4 linked regions of the Homo sapiens genome follow. The protein of the gene in region 2 purifies or fractionates together with the protein of the main gene of each other region. This does not show direct contact. Each region holds a gene or a part of one and is shown on either strand. Other genes may lie near its edges.

What was found. The genes of interacting proteins can lie anywhere in the genome.
Region 1: the proteins of CFH (region 2) and SH3D19 purify together in Homo sapiens (affinity purification with mass spectrometry, with the first as the bait; one large-scale study listed by BioGRID). This does not show direct contact.
Region 3: the proteins of CFH (region 2) and LRSAM1 purify together in Homo sapiens (affinity purification with mass spectrometry, with the first as the bait; one large-scale study listed by BioGRID). This does not show direct contact.
Region 4: the proteins of CFH (region 2) and BMP1 purify together in Homo sapiens (affinity purification with mass spectrometry, with the first as the bait; one large-scale study listed by BioGRID). This does not show direct contact.

Annotation. Positions count from the first base shown.
Region 1 is NC_000004.12:151,172,106-151,175,605, reverse strand, and holds part of SH3D19 (SH3 domain-containing protein 19), read left to right. Parts: coding exon 1-936; intron 937-1,494; exon of another isoform or gene 1,495-3,500. UniProt on the Homo sapiens protein: May play a role in regulating A disintegrin and metalloproteases (ADAMs) in the signaling of EGFR-ligand shedding. May be involved in suppression of Ras-induced cellular transformation and Ras-mediated activation of ELK1.
Region 2 is NC_000001.11:196,723,983-196,729,410, forward strand, and holds part of CFH (complement factor H isoform a precursor), read left to right. Parts: intron 1-1,138; coding exon 1,139-1,315; intron 1,316-2,487; coding exon 2,488-2,670; intron 2,671-2,778; coding exon 2,779-2,958; intron 2,959-4,363; coding exon 4,364-4,540; intron 4,541-5,428. UniProt on the Homo sapiens protein: Glycoprotein that plays an essential role in maintaining a well-balanced immune response by modulating complement activation.
Region 3 is NC_000009.12:127,454,510-127,458,009, forward strand, and holds part of LRSAM1 (E3 ubiquitin-protein ligase LRSAM1), read left to right. Parts: 5' UTR 1-18; coding exon 19-90; intron 91-488; coding exon 489-545; intron 546-1,066; coding exon 1,067-1,111; intron 1,112-2,806; coding exon 2,807-2,884; intron 2,885-3,500.
Region 4 is NC_000008.11:22,178,872-22,182,371, forward strand, and holds part of BMP1 (bone morphogenetic protein 1 isoform 3 precursor), read left to right. Parts: intron 1-833; coding exon 834-958; intron 959-1,496; coding exon 1,497-1,612; intron 1,613-3,500. UniProt on the Homo sapiens protein: Metalloprotease that plays key roles in regulating the formation of the extracellular matrix (ECM) via processing of various precursor proteins into mature functional enzymes or structural proteins.

The DNA.
Region 1 (3,500 bases), on a different chromosome or scaffold from region 2:
TGGCACCTTTAATCGTCTTTGATATTTCTGAAGAACCGAATTGTCCAGAAAACCCCAGTGCTACAAGATGTCCAGTGCCAAAACCAAGATCAAAAAGCAACCTCAGACCAATACCCAGAGATTCTCACATTAAAGAGCAAAGTCAACAGAAAATCAGCCCAGCAGCCGTAGGAGAGGAGTCATCCCCAGGCCGGCCCCAGTCTCTGCTGGACAACGCTAGCACCTCAGACAGTCAGGCAGTGATGAACATTATGAACACAGAACAAAGCCAAAATAGTATTGTTTCCAGAATTAAAGTGTTTGAGGGTCAGACAAACATAGAAACCTCAGGACTGCCCAAGAAACCAGAAATTACTCCACGTTCACTTCCTCCAAAGCCTACTGTTTCCTCAGGGAAACCTTCTGTAGCTCCCAAACCAGCTGCTAACAGAGCTTCTGGAGAGTGGGACTCTGGGACTGAGAACAGACTCAAGGTGACCTCCAAGGAAGGACTCACCCCATACCCTCCCCTGCAAGAAGCGGGAAGCATCCCAGTAACCAAACCTGAATTGCCAAAGAAACCAAACCCTGGCCTTATACGAAGTGTTAATCCTGAGATTCCGGGAAGAGGGCCCCTGGCTGAGAGCTCTGATAGTGGGAAGAAAGTGCCAACTCCTGCCCCGCGGCCTTTGCTGCTGAAGAAATCTGTTTCCTCAGAAAACCCCACCTACCCTTCAGCTCCACTGAAACCTGTCACTGTTCCTCCCCGACTCGCAGGGGCATCACAAGCCAAAGCATACAAGTCACTGGGAGAAGGGCCCCCAGCCAACCCCCCAGTTCCAGTTCTGCAGAGCAAGCCCTTGGTGGACATCGATCTCATCAGCTTTGATGATGATGTTTTGCCCACCCCATCGGGGAACCTGGCTGAAGAATCTGTTGGTTCAGAGATGGTTCTAGGTGAGTGAAAAATCAGCAGTGGAGGGGAATCTAAACTCATGATAGGGTATTTTAAATGGCACTTGCTGTTTTAGTTTCTGGTACATAAGTTATTGAGGTGTGTGTATACAAGTATGTGCACATGCATGTGTGTGTATAGAAACAGAGGAATGAACAGACAGATCAAGAAACATGGGAGCTATGTGGGGAATGGAGACAGGGAGGGAAGGGAAAATATGGGATGGGGGTAATGGAGTCAGAAATGGGGAGACACATGCATCGATTACTATTATATGAGCCAGAAGTAAGCAGACTGGGGCTAGGAGCTAAACTATAATAGGTTGTGGGGCTGGCTCCCCTTACTCTTGGCAGATAGAAGTTCAGACTTCACATTGAAAGGATCCAGGGAGGTTATGGAACATGTAGAAGGATGCAGAGGAAGCTTCTCTTAGATGGGAAGTCATGCAGTGGCCCCAGAGGGGCTCCTCAGATGAAATGGGCCTCAGCTGGGAGTGCTGGGAGAGGGGCCAGCTCCAGGGGAGGACTCGAAAATGTACGGAATGAGGACCCAGCCACATGTTGCAAAGTTGTTCCTTTAATCTTCACAGAACATCTTCCCTTGAGAGTGAAAAGTTTTGTAAATAAAATACAACAGATACAAGTTAGCTGCCAAGATCAGTACAATTAAATATCCCAGAAGGCAGAGAGTATGTTTTCTTTCCTCTAACTGTTCCGTTGGAGAGTGTGATGGTAAAGCTTATCTTTGATTTGTCAAACTAAGCTGCTCTACTTGTCATTGATAAGATTTCTTTTACTGCTGTTGACTTATTTGGGTGGAATTTGTGAACATATAAACTTAATAGAATTTTCAAAAGCTTAACTGTCACTGTATAAATGTTTAACATGCATCAAAATAGTACAGGCTCTGTGATTTCACAGCCACATTCTGCATAGCACAGGTGTGTTTAAAATGAAAACAAACATACACATTATTAAATATTCATCATGCACAGAACATTGTAACTGACACACAACATTTTAGCGTATAAACTAAAAGACATACATGGCTTTTGTCCATAAAGGGTGGAAGGAAAAACATTTGAATATATTAAGCTTCTGCAGTGTACCTAATGCTCTGCTAAATACTGAGACATACATTATTTTATTTAATAATTGCAACAACCGTCTGTGAGTTATCATTGGCCTAAGTTTGCAAATGAAGACAGTGAGACTGAGAGAGATCTATGGATCACTTGCCCAGTGTCATAAAACAATTGTTCAAGTCAGGATTCAAACTTAGTGTTTTTATTCTAAGCCTAGTTTATTTTTCACTGTATAATGTTGCTACCCAATATTTTCATGAATCCTTAACCAGGCAACACTTTAAAAACTTTTCAAGTCTTTGATAATACCATTTTCTTATATAAACCTTTTTGGTATTAACAAGATTCAGAGAAGGACAGGGATAGATAAACCCAACAGCAGCAAGCTAAAGAAATATTACCTTTTGTAGAACTTGCTAGTTTCTATGGGGATGGCAACTCAACTAATAATTGCTGAGAATTTATTTTGTATCATCTAGCAGATAATTATAGTCATCTTCAAAAAGGAAGGTCAACAATATACTTTAAGCATGAATACAGTCTCATGCTTCATACTCAGCCTTTTCCATTTCTTGATTTCTACCACTTCATTGAACAACATTTAATTATTGGGGCGTCTTTTAGCAAAGTGTGTAATTTGCTTGTGCTATCTGACTTTAACCATTGCTCTGGACTATGGGGTTATACTGAGCTGAATACTATCTTCTTTCTAAATCTTCTTTCTTCCTATATTTTGCAACTCACTATTGACACCATCACACACACACCAGCCTTTCCTGGAGAAACCCAGAGATCATCCTTGAGTCTTCTCACCGTGTCACACAGTGGCTAGCTGTTCAGATTTGGAGTCTGCCAGGGTCTACCATATTTGTTACATGACCTTGGGCAATTTTCTTAACCTCACAGTGCCTCTGTTTCCTCATTTGTTTAGACGTAATACTACTCCTCACCTAGGGTATTGCAAGGGTTAAATGTGATTATGCAGGAAAGCCCTATGATCATTAATTAGTAGTTATTATTGTTACTTCTCTGCCTTCACATCTAATTAGTTACCAACTCCTGCTGGTTTTACCTTCCAAATAGTTCTTGACTCTGCCTCTCCTTTTCATCCTTCCCTCTTCTGCCCCACTTTAGGCCTTTACACTCTGATGACTGCAGTGGCCTCCCAAATTGAGCCCACTCAGACAATCCTATCACAATCCATACTGTGGCTACCTAGGGGGAGTTTCTAGAATGCACACTGGTGCTTTTTGCCTCCCTACTTATGCCCTCCAAAGGCCTTCAGGATCACCTCTGAATGCCTTGACCTGTGGAGGGATTTTTGTTTGCTTTTTGATTTGGGGCTTTGTGACTTTTTGGTGGTATTTTGGTAGCATTGTCATTGTAAATAAAGGTTTATGGTCCTGGGAAACCTTGCCTAATCATCCAGACACCAGGCAGAAACTGGGAGAGGAACACAGGAGAAAGAAGAGAAACTTACAA
Region 2 (5,428 bases):
CTCCTGGGATGGATCTATACTCCTCCCTTGCAGAGCCAAACACCGCGTCTGCGTGTCTGCTGGAAGTGGCGTAGTCATTTTCAGCCCACAAGCAGGTTGCTCTTGCACACAGGAAAGTGAATGCTACAGTCTTCTTTGCCACAAGGGGTGTTCCTTTGTTGCACTTTCCATTAGGAATAGCCTCCCTGGTGGTTAAACTATTGGGAATGCTGTAACTCCTTTGGGTCCAGCCAGCTATGGGTGACTGCCACATCCAAGCAGGTGACAGGGAATATTTGTGCGGCTCTGGTGTTATGGGGACAGAGGGCTGAGGTTCCTGGGTAGGAAACAGTCCCCACATGAGTGCACTGCAGGCATGAAACCTACCACTGCAGCTCAGGCCCAAGGGGAAGGCAGATGACCCTATTCAACTAGTAGTTTGGTGTAATGCCCTCAAGAAGTTCCCAAATCTCCACTCACACCAGTGTGTGTGTTCACGAAGACAGAAGAGCTCTCTGATGGCTTGGATCCACACGGTGAGCTGCAGGGAGCCCAGAAGACTCCTACCTACACTTTCTATGAGGTCCCACAGGGTCCTAGTCAACCTTTGTCAGGCTCTTGCTTCTGTCTTTTTCCATGCTTTGGCTTCTCTCCATGGTTTCTCTATGACGCTCCTGCACCCTCTCTTAAATATTTTTCAAGTTATGATCATTTACCTGTAACTTTGGTTCTTCTTTCTGAGGAGAACTTGTGTCCAAACTCCTTAGTCAGTCATCTTGTTTTCAAAAAGCCCCAATTCTGGTCTATATGCACTTTTCTTTTTTAATATGAGAGAGTAATTTCATGTTTTGAGTAAAAAAAGTAATATTAAATTTCATTAATGTCAGTGATTAAAACTAGATTCATTGTAAATAAGTTGAATTTACAAATTAATTTTTAGAACAGATATATTTCAATACCATAACATTTATAATAAAGTTCCATTTCAATTTAGACAGCATATAAAACATAATATGTAGCATTCTTTACAGGGAAAAGGATTTATCTGATGCCCCTCTGTATGACCCAATATCAACCTCACTTTATTGTGGCATATGTAAAATTAACTTTGGCAATGATTAATTATATATTCTCATGAAATTATTTTACCTTTTTCAAGAAAGAGAATGCGAACTTCCTAAAATAGATGTACACTTAGTTCCTGATCGCAAGAAAGACCAGTATAAAGTTGGAGAGGTGTTGAAATTCTCCTGCAAACCAGGATTTACAATAGTTGGACCTAATTCCGTTCAGTGCTACCACTTTGGATTGTCTCCTGACCTCCCAATATGTAAAGGTGAATGCTTATCTTACAATTGCTGAAATAAGAATTAGAACTTTGAATACCAACTTTTTTCTTATTAATTTTGTTTGGGCTCCCATTGCCTGTAATCTAATGAATTAAGTCAAATATTTGCCTGTGAAGGACATGTATTGAGTACTGAATACCTGAGATTCAGTCACTTAAGTTAATCTCCACTGTTTCTTGAACGATGTGCTGGAAGTATTCCCAGACACACAGGTGTTGTCGGTCTTAGTCTACTTTAGGTTTATGTTTCTATAAAGGAATAACTGAGTCTGGATGATTTGTAAAAATGTTTTATTTGGCTCACTATACTCATGACTATAAAATTCAAGATCGGGCATCTGCATTCAGTGAGAGCCACAGAATGCTGGTAGAAAGGGAAGAGGAGCCACTGTGTCCAGAGAACACATGATGAGAGAGGAAGCAAGAGAGAGAGCAGGGCAGTGACAGGCTCTTTTTAAGAACCAGCTCTTCCAGGAGCTAATAGAGTGAGAACTCACCCTGAGAGGGGGCATTCATCTGTTCATGAGAGATCCATACCCATGATCCAAACATCTCCCATTAGACCCCACCTGAAACACTGGGGATGAAGTTTCAACATGGGGTTGGAGGTGACAAACATTTAAACCATACTAGTGGCTGACAATGGAGGGATTTCTTTGTTAATTTTCATTTTGCTTGAAATGTCAACATCCATTCTGGACATTTTATATAGTGTGGGCTGCAACTTAAGTTTCACCGGGTGTGTCTAAACAATATTTAAGCAGCTTATATTCAATTCAGTTGCTTGTATTGATTAGTCAAACTTTATGTTGATCAAATGCTTGCCTCAGTTATGATATTTTTCCAAAATGTTATGATAAAATGTTTCCATGAAATGTAAAAATTAACATGATTTTCATAACCACATTTGCTAATTGGTTTTCTTGCATCTTTAAGATATCTAGAAGTCTGAGCATATTTTAACATTTTAATATACCTTCAATATGACAATTTAGTATAAGTAATACAATATGAACACCATTCTTGATTGTTTAGGATGCTATAATAAGTTACATAATGAAGAATACATGAATAAAAGAAGAAAATCTTTCCATTTTACTGAATTTTTATATTGTAAAACAGACAATTTAACCATTATTTACATAGTATTTCTACTATAGAGCAAGTACAATCATGTGGTCCACCTCCTGAACTCCTCAATGGGAATGTTAAGGAAAAAACGAAAGAAGAATATGGACACAGTGAAGTGGTGGAATATTATTGCAATCCTAGATTTCTAATGAAGGGACCTAATAAAATTCAATGTGTTGATGGAGAGTGGACAACTTTACCAGTGTGTATTGGTAATGTATAAAATATTAATATTTAAACTTGTCAAAACTTTTGTATTTTGTATCTAAAACACATACATCATGTTTTCACAATAAACTTTTTTTGTAAAATTTACATAGTGGAGGAGAGTACCTGTGGAGATATACCTGAACTTGAACATGGCTGGGCCCAGCTTTCTTCCCCTCCTTATTACTATGGAGATTCAGTGGAATTCAATTGCTCAGAATCATTTACAATGATTGGACACAGATCAATTACGTGTATTCATGGAGTATGGACCCAACTTCCCCAGTGTGTGGGTGAGAATACCCTTCTTAAATCAACATTTAACAAAGTTTAATATTTTTATTGTAACAACAATAATTGCAACTATATTTTTGAAATTTACAGATATGCCTCAACATTTCCAGTCTTCAATATGAGACCAATCTTTTGCATATTGCTTATAATTCAATATGTGTCTAGAAAGAAAAAATAAAGCTAGTAATATAATTTTATGAATCTTTCTGCGTCTGATAACAGTATTGTTTATATTTAAAAGTGTGAAGCAACATTTTACTTACAAAAATTGTCATGTGAGGCCAGGGTGGTTGCTCACGCCTATAACCTCAACACTTCAGGAGGCCAAGGCAAGAAGATTGCTTGAGGCCAGGAGGTAGACACTAGTGTGGGCAATATAGCAAAAGCCCATCTCTATAAAAAAAATTTTGTAATTAGTTAAGGTGTGGTGGTGCATGCCTGTAATCCAGCTACTTGGGAGGCTGAGGAGGAATGATTGCTTAAGGCCAGGAATTCGAGATTGCAGTGAGCTCTATTGTGCATTCCAGCCTGGGCAACAGAGTAAGACTCTTTCTTTAAAAAACAAAAATATTAAAAAATTATCATATGATTAAATATGAGTACTAATTACTGAGAAATTATAACAGTTTTATATAAAATATAAATATTATTGTTATTGTATGGTATTCCTTTTTAGGCACTGAGAAGCAAAGAAACAAAGTTGACAAAATACCTACTTACTACTCTCCCATAGGATTCTTTTCTCTCTTAAAGCTTCCAAAAGTGATAATTTTTCAGTTTGTTCCATATCAGCCAAAATAAGTGAATGTGCTGCAGGGTTGGTGGGCCACAGGCCCTCTACATCAGTGGTATAGCTGAGTGGCATGAGGTAGTCAGGGACTGAGTCAGGACGTAAATCTCATTGACGGACTTCACACTGTAAATCTCATGTCTTGATCAGCAAGAAGGCAAGGTGATTCACTTACAGTGTGACTTGAGATGTACAATCTTTAAAATCATTTTGCCTCTTTGATGACTAACCGGGAGGATCTTGGGGACCCTCATTCACTTTTCTCTAAACTGAGATTTTTCCTAAAGTTTTCCTGGGTCCTGAATTCTAAGAGTCCTAATGTCCAATCATACTTATTTATCCAATGAAATATCCAATGATATTTTGTATTTCCCAAAGAATAAAATGTCTTCTGATAGGTATCTCTAACATTTCAGCGACAGAATACAGGGCTTATATTTTGACATAATAGCATTTTGATGCAATGTGATCAGGAATAACTTGGTTGGTGAAATTTATAATGATTAAGTCATAATTTTACCATGCTAATACTATTTACTTTATAACTATTTTTATGTAATAGTTGGTTTGATTCCTATCATTTGAATTTTCATAAAAATATATTTATTTTATAGCAATAGATAAACTTAAGAAGTGCAAATCATCAAATTTAATTATACTTGAGGAACATTTAAAAAACAAGAAGGAATTCGATCATAATTCTAACATAAGGTACAGATGTAGAGGAAAAGAAGGATGGATACACACAGTCTGCATAAATGGAAGATGGGATCCAGAAGTGAACTGCTCAAGTAAGCTCTTATTTTGTTTTCAGAAATGTATTCTATTTCTCATTTGGAAAAGTAATAGGTATGTGTGTCTTTTAAAAACTTTAGCTATTTATTATTACAAATGCTACTGAATAAGGCAGGTAAACTAGAAACTAATGAAAACACTGTTCCTAATATTAACTGTGCCCTGTGAATTAGTTACCTTTAGTATAAACACACACACACACACACGCACACACACACACACACACACACACATAAACCAGGCACTACATGTCATCATTACTGTTGGAGGACCAGTGCTTCTCATTCCTTTTCTTGTCAACAAATGTTCCTGTGCCTATACCTCTGTCTATGCCAATAACTACTATGTATCTGTTTGTATATGTCTGTATGCATGTATGTATGTATCTATATCTATTTCTGTTGATTCATTTATTTAATCTATCTCTCTGTCTATTCATCTACCTGTTCATCTACCTAATCATCTATTTATCTATTAATTTATTGTTCATCTATCTTGAAAAGTTAGTCATATTGACACATACAGTTTCACTTGAATAGTGTAGGTTTTATTCCAGTCTTCTCATATTTTATATCTGTATTTTGCTATCCAATTGTGGGTTTCCTTGCCTCACTAACTTCAATATTTTTACCAATGTCTGCCAGTCTAGGATATACAGAAAGCATTGACAACCAATACAAAAACTAATCTGCTATCAACATTTCAATATGTTTAGAGTCCTTAAAGAAGCAAATAATATATATATGCAGTGAAGTGTACATGTTCTACAGTTTTTTCTTGAAGTTTTATAGTTTTAGCCATTCTATATAGATTTATTAAAATGATCGTATAGTTATCGTCCTTTCTGTTAATGGGATGCATCACCTTTACTAATTTGCCTATGT
Region 3 (3,500 bases), on a different chromosome or scaffold from region 2:
CTCTGGGAAAAGGGAAGGATGCCGCTCTTCTTCCGGAAGCGGAAACCCAGTGAGGAGGCTCGGAAACGCCTGGAGTACCAGATGTGTTTGGTGAGGGAAAGTGGGTTTCCTCTAACTCTATCCCATCTCCTCCTCGGTCCCCATGGAGTAGGCCTCCGCACTGCCCCCAACAAGCCGTGCTCCTTCCCATCTGCCTCCCCCACCCACAGAAGAAATATTTGACTTAGACCCAACAGATGAGGCCCCCTGCCAAGGGTGCTTCTCCCCTGTAGACTGAGCGCACTGTCATTGCTTTTCAGTTCCTCATCCCTCTGGGCCTCAAGCTCTGGGAAAGCAGGGGTCATTGGTTCACCTGCCAAATGGACCAGTGGAACCAGATAGTGTCTATGGTCCTTTGCAGCTGCTTACATTTATGTTCTTTGCCTGGCTTGTCCACTCTGCAAAGGTGTTTTGTCTTAATACTTTTTAAAAATTCTTTTTATCCTTAGGCAAAAGAAGCTGGGGCAGATGACATTCTCGACATCTCTAAATGTGAGCTCTCAGAGGTAAACTGAGGATAGTGTTGGGCTGTGAATTGGATCTGTCCCGTTTTCTTGGATCTTGTGTCCCTAGGAAAGACAGAGGTGGACTGGGGCTTTAGAAAGGCCAGAAGCTCTAGTCACGAGATGTTTCCTTAGATTTTGTTCTCGTCCAAAATAATTGAAGATGATCCTTTGGCCTCAATATAACGTAGTCTCCAAGAGTCAAGGAGTCTAGGTAGAAAATGTACCCATAGACTCCTACATTGCTGGAAGGGCCTGGCATTCTCCAGCCCCTGAAGGGGTTCACAATGGGGACAGGGTGGGTGGGGCAGGGCAGTCTCCTGCCAGCTGACCGAGGGAAGGGCTGGCCACATCCCCAACACCACTGCTTGCCAGCCTTGCCCCTGGGCTCAGCACTGCCACCTGCTGTGGCGTTTTGCCCTTGTTCACCTCCTGCCTGTCTCTTCCTCACGTGAATGCCACTCAGAGAACAAGCTAAAAACTGGCAGGAGGGGAGACACTTACTCTTCTTTATCTTATCTTAGATTCCATTTGGAGCTTTTGCAACATGCAAAGTTCTGCAGAAGAAGGTAAGATGGAGCTTCATCTTCAGAGACTTTCTTGTTGCATGTCTGCTTGTTTGAACCCACAAGGGACTTTGAGGAGCTGTCTTCCCGGCGTAGACACCTCCTTTCTCTCTGCTTCTTATGCTCTTGGCCTGCAGCAGGTGTTTTCACAGATAGGAGAGTAGGCTTTGGGGTTGGACCTTCCTGTGTCACATTCTAACTCTGCCCTCACTGGCTTCATGACTTGGGCAACTTCCTTAAACTCTTACTTCTCAGTTTCTTCCCCTGTGAAATGAAGACATTCATAGTTCTCCTTCCTGAGGTATTGTGAGAATTAAATGAGTGGTAGATAGCTAGATAGAGATAGAAATATACTGAGTGTACATGCCTACCACGTAGTAAAGGCTTATGAACCCCGGTGTTAGTAATAATAGAAACTCACGCCTTTTATTCTGGTCACCCAGGGGAGATTCAGAGGGGAGTGAATGATTTTTCAGCAGAGCATTGCAGCTTTGAATGCAGATGGGTAGAAGCGCTCTAAGTGAAGTATCTAAATGAGAATATGCAAAAAAAAAAAAAAAAAAAAGTGTTCCCTGCCAACAGAGTAGTGAGCTCCTTGGCGCTGGAAGTTTTGTTTGTTTTTTTTTTTTTTTGAAGACGGACGCTCTGCTCTGTCACCCAGGCTGGAGTGCAGTGGTGCAATCTCAGCTCACTGAAACCTCCGCCTCCTGGGTTCAAGCAATTCTCCTGCCTCAGCCTCCTGAGTAGCTGGGATTATAGGCGCCCACCACCATGCCCAACTAATTTTTGTATTTTTAGAGATGAGGTTTTGCCATGTTGGCCAGGCTGGTCTCGAACTCCTGACCTCAAGTGATCCACCTGCCTTAGCCTGCCAAAGTGCTGGGATTACAGGTGTGAGCCACCACGCCCAGTCTGTGCTGGAAGTGTTGGGCCGCAGTCAATGCCTAAGAAAAATGCAGTAGATTGGCCGGGTGCGGTGGCTCATGCCTGTAATCCCAGCACTTCGGGAGGCCGAGGTGGGCAGATCACGAGGTCAGGAGATCAAGACCATCCTGGCTACCATGGTGAAACCCGGTCTCTACCAAAAATAAAAAAAAAATCAGCTGGGTGTGGTGGCATGCGCCTGTAGTCCCAGCTACTCGGGAGGGCGAGACAGGAGAATTGCTTGAACCTGGGAGGCGGAGGTTGCAGTGAGCTGAGATCACACCACTGCACTCCAGCTTGGGCGACAGAGCAAGAGTTGGTCTCAAAAAAAAAAAAAAAGAAAAGGAAAAATAGCAGTAGATGACCTGGACTGAGCCCTGGCCCCTCTGCCAGCCCTGGAAGTTTTGCGCATGAGCTTTTATTTAACATCATGGCAGCCCTGGGAGGCAAGCACTTTATTATTCTCTATTTTCCACGTGAAGACGCTGGTGCTGGGAAGGTTATGATCAGGATGGCTGCAGGGGGATCCCTTCTCAGATGGAAGGAAGATGTAGACCTCTAAGGTCTCTTTCACCCTTGAAGATCCAGGTTTTAAGGAAGGGCATTAGATTCCCCATTGGGAGAGTTCATGATACTGACCCGCATCCCCGTGGTGGTGTCTGGGAGAGCAAGATGGTGGGGCGTGGCACGGCGCTGGGCTGGCTCCCACGCCCTTAGCCTGCCCTGCCTGCTGCTCTTCCTCAGCCCAGCATGGCCGCACATCTCTCCACACAGGTGCTGATCGTCCACACGAATCACCTCACTTCCCTGCTTCCCAAATCCTGCAGCCTCCTGAGTCTGGCAACCATCAAGGTACTGGGCCCTCCTCCCAGGCAGCTGGGGCTCTGCATGGGGTTCCACGCGGCAGCTGAGCGCCTGCTCCTTTTGGGCTGCCTCTTGCATGTCAGAGGGGCCCAATCTACCAGTCAGTCTGGGATTTGATCAGTATGGTTTACTGGATACTTCTGTGGGCTGTGTGTGGGTTAGGGTGACAAAGATGACCAGCCACAGGCCCTGTCCCTGGGGAGTTTACATGCCAGGAGGAAAGCCAAGTGACAGCCTCATGGCGAGTCAGCTAGCAGAGGGCGAGGAGACTGATGGTCCCAGGCAAGAAGGAAGAGGAGGGACGCGCAGGTGATCTGGAAGGACTCCCTGCTGACTGTGAGCTCCTCCCCGGATGGGCTGGGAGGCATTCACAACATGTGGGAGGTGTGAGCCCAGGGTTGTTATGCGCAGACCTGAGCTTGGGAGAGTGATATGCACCTTCAGAGGAGGCCGGCAGCACAGGTGTCAGCCCAGCAGCACAGGCCCAATCTGTTATACTATATTGTTTAGGGAATAATGACAAGAGAAAAGCCTGTATGTGTTCACTACAGATGCTTTCTTTCTTTTTTTTTTTTTTAATATTTTGCACCTGAGTTTGGTTGAA
Region 4 (3,500 bases), on a different chromosome or scaffold from region 2:
CTGCCCCCTCTTCTCAGTGCTTCTACCCGATCTGCTCTTCCTGCCTGCAGACCTGCAGGAACAGAGACCAAGGAAGGGTGGTGAGGTCATTCTGCCCCCCACACCCACAGACCCGGCCTTACATTTCCCACCACATCCCACCCCACCCCCTGCTGCGATCCACCCAGCTGGGTGTGAGTCAGGGGCCCTGGGGAGGTGGAGGGCTGCCTGCCTCCCCTTCACTCTGCTCCTCCCAGTGCAAACACCCAGGATTCAGCAGGGAGGAATGGCCAGGACAGGAGACACTGATAGATTGGGAGCTGGTGGGGCTGTCCCCGGGGCTTGGTCTGGCTGCAGTGGAATCTGCCTTTGGCCTTGTTCCAGGTGCTTTCAGATGCAGCCTGTGCCAGCAGGGTGAGGAGCTGGCCTGGGGAGTCCTGGGAGAAGTTTAGTTAGGGCTGGAGCAGCATGAGGGGCTGCAGAAGCAGGGGCCCAGTGGGGCTGGAGAGAGATGACCCGCTAGGGGCCTGTAGCTTTCCTGGGGCTGGGAGTTGTGGCCAGCCTGAGCTGGGAGCACCAGTGGGTCCAAGGGCACCCTGGACCTGCATCCCTGACCTCCCAAAGTGTTCCTGGGGCTCCCCCGACTCCTGTGGTGTGGCTGCCACGGAGCAGGGTGGCTGCTGGTCAGTGGGTAGCATAATGACAGGGTGAGACGACTCCACCCGGCCCTGACCCTGCTGAGGAATGTCTGAGCTCCAGCAGGGTCGTGACTTGTGGGTACAGATGGGCATGCCACCCACTCCCTGCCCACTGTCCATGAGACGCTCACCCTTACTTTTCTCCCTCTTCTTCAGGGGCATCTTCCTGGATACCATTGTCCCCAAGTATGAGGTGAACGGGGTGAAACCTCCCATTGGCCAAAGGACACGGCTCAGCAAGGGGGACATTGCCCAAGCCCGCAAGCTTTACAAGTGCCCAGGTCAGGGCAGAGAAGGGATGGGTGAGGGCGTGGAGGGCAGGGCCTGAGGGAGGCAGAGGCCAGGTGCCTGGTGCCACCAAGAAGGCTTAGGCTGCAAGTCTTAGAGAATGGTGTGGCGGGGGAGGGGACCCCATAGGAGGGGCAGTGTCCAAGTGAAGGAGGCCGCTGGGGGTAGGCTCAGGTGGGTGGTCAGAAGCCGAGCCGCCACCTTCTGAGGGTCTGTAGGGGCGGAAGTGGGGAGAACAGCAATCCTAGGAGAGGGAGGTGGCACGGAGCCCCACCAAGGGAGCTTGACCTTAGCTCTGGAACCCATATTGCCTTCACAAACAGGGCAGCACTGGGCTGGGAGGTAGGATGGCGTGTGCTATATGTGAGGTAGGGGGGTGGATCTTATAGGGGCAGGACCATTGCAGACACCCTCCCACTCCTCAGGCATTCTCCCCTCCCCCAGAGGATGCCAAGGTTCAGGGGTGGGTGAGCCAGAAGATGGGGGGATTTGGCGCCTGCAGCCCTGCCCTGTCATTTCCTTTCCTCACAGCCTGTGGAGAGACCCTGCAAGACAGCACAGGCAACTTCTCCTCCCCTGAATACCCCAATGGCTACTCTGCTCACATGCACTGCGTGTGGCGCATCTCTGTCACACCCGGGGAGAAGGTACGTGTGGGCTCAGCCTCTGAGCCTCCCCCTCCCCTGCGGGTCCCCATACCTCAGGGACTTCTCCCACAGTGGGGGTCAATATGGGTGCCAGCGACCTACCTGGCTACCGTAAATGTATCAAGTCCAGAGCGCTGATGGAGCACGGCTGTAGGAAGGGGCTCCTGGCATTCACCGCCTTCCCTGGCATCTCCCAATAATTATAAATTAGTGTTAATTTGCACATAGCACTTGCTGTGTAGGTCTATTTTGATTATCTAGTTCTTCTTGGGTGATTTTCCTACATCACCTCTTTTAGTTTTTACGGCTACCTCCACCTTTATTTTACAGATGAGGAAACTGAGGCACAGGGTGGTTAAGTAACTTGCCCAAGGTCACACAGCTAACAAGGACTGAGGTGGGACTGGAGCTCTTCTCAGGTCTGGGTTCCCTTGGATGAACTGCTCAGCCTGACGCTCAGCTCTCATCCGTCTCATCAGGGCTTGGGCCAGGGGCTCCTGAAGGGCTCTTCCCGATTCTGACAGGCTCTAGTCCTGGGAACAATTAAGGAATGATGCAGGCGCCTCCAGCAGGATGCTGCCTGGTGGGTCTCTCCTTCTCACCCATCCTTCCCCTTGCTCAGGCCAGGACCCTCCAGTCTTTGCTCTGTGGGCCTGATTTTCTGTGCCTGGCTCTCCACTGGCACTCTATTTCTCCTCCCTCTACCTGTCACCTGCTATATCAGTTCTGATCCATAGAGAAAGCTCAGCTCCACCTTCTGTCTTACCTTGTGGGGAAGTACCCAGTTCTCATACTTGCTGCCACGTGGGGCTGGCTTCGGGCATACTACGGGATCGGGTCAGAGCTGTCTCCATCTTCACAGTCTAGCTCGGATGTGACCTCCTTCAGGAAGCCTTCCCTGCTCGTTACTAATTGGTGGCAAGTAGGGTGGACACCGAGTGTGGGGAGGGCCCCCGAGCCTGTCCGGTCAGGTTTCCCACTGCATGGTTGATTAGCCCTGTTTGAATACCTAAGGTGATGAGAGGCTCACTACTTTTCAGAATAATTCATTCTGTTCTCTAGCCAGCTCTTTTTTTTTTTTTTTCTTGAGACAGAATCTCACTTTTTCACCCAAGGTGGAGTGCAGTGGCGCGATCTCAGCTCACTGCAACCTCTGCCGCCCAGGGTCAAGCGATACTCCCACCTCAGCCTCTGGAGTAGCTGGGACTGCAGATGTGCGCTACCATGCCCGGCAATTTTTTTTCTATTTTTGGTCGAGACAGGGTTTCGCCATGTTGCACAGGCTGGTCTCGAACTCCTGAGTTCAAGTGATCCTCCTGGCTCAGGCTTCCAAAGTGCTGGGATTACAGGCGTGAGCCACCGCATCTGGCCTGTAGCCAGCTCTTAATGTTACAACGTCTCTTCTTCTCCCTTAAGCCCCCCAGTTGCTCCAGTACTTTCCTCAAGAGCAATGCAGGATAACTCACTCCCTCTTTCCCATGTCAGCCCTCCTAATGTGGGGAGGCTACTCCCATCACTTCTTAGATCCATTCCCGGTCTTTTCACACAGACTCTGGACCTCCGCACCAACCCCAGACCTTCTGTGTCCATATTTTTATTGCTCCCAAGCTACAAGACTTTATTTTCCTTGATTGGGGCATGGTTCTTAATGTCATAGTGCAGCGTTGAGCTGGATTCAATTCTATTATTGATTGCATTGTTCATTTCGACATCTCAAGATCATTTTGAATCAGAATTTCACCATCCATCAGGTAGCCCTCCTCTTACCTCTGCCATGAGCTCCTTTGATAAGCATGACTTCTAGGTCTTCGTCCTGGCCTTTGATCAAAACATAGAACAGCACACAAACCAAAGAAGAACCAAGATTTCCCTCCAAATTGGCATTAAT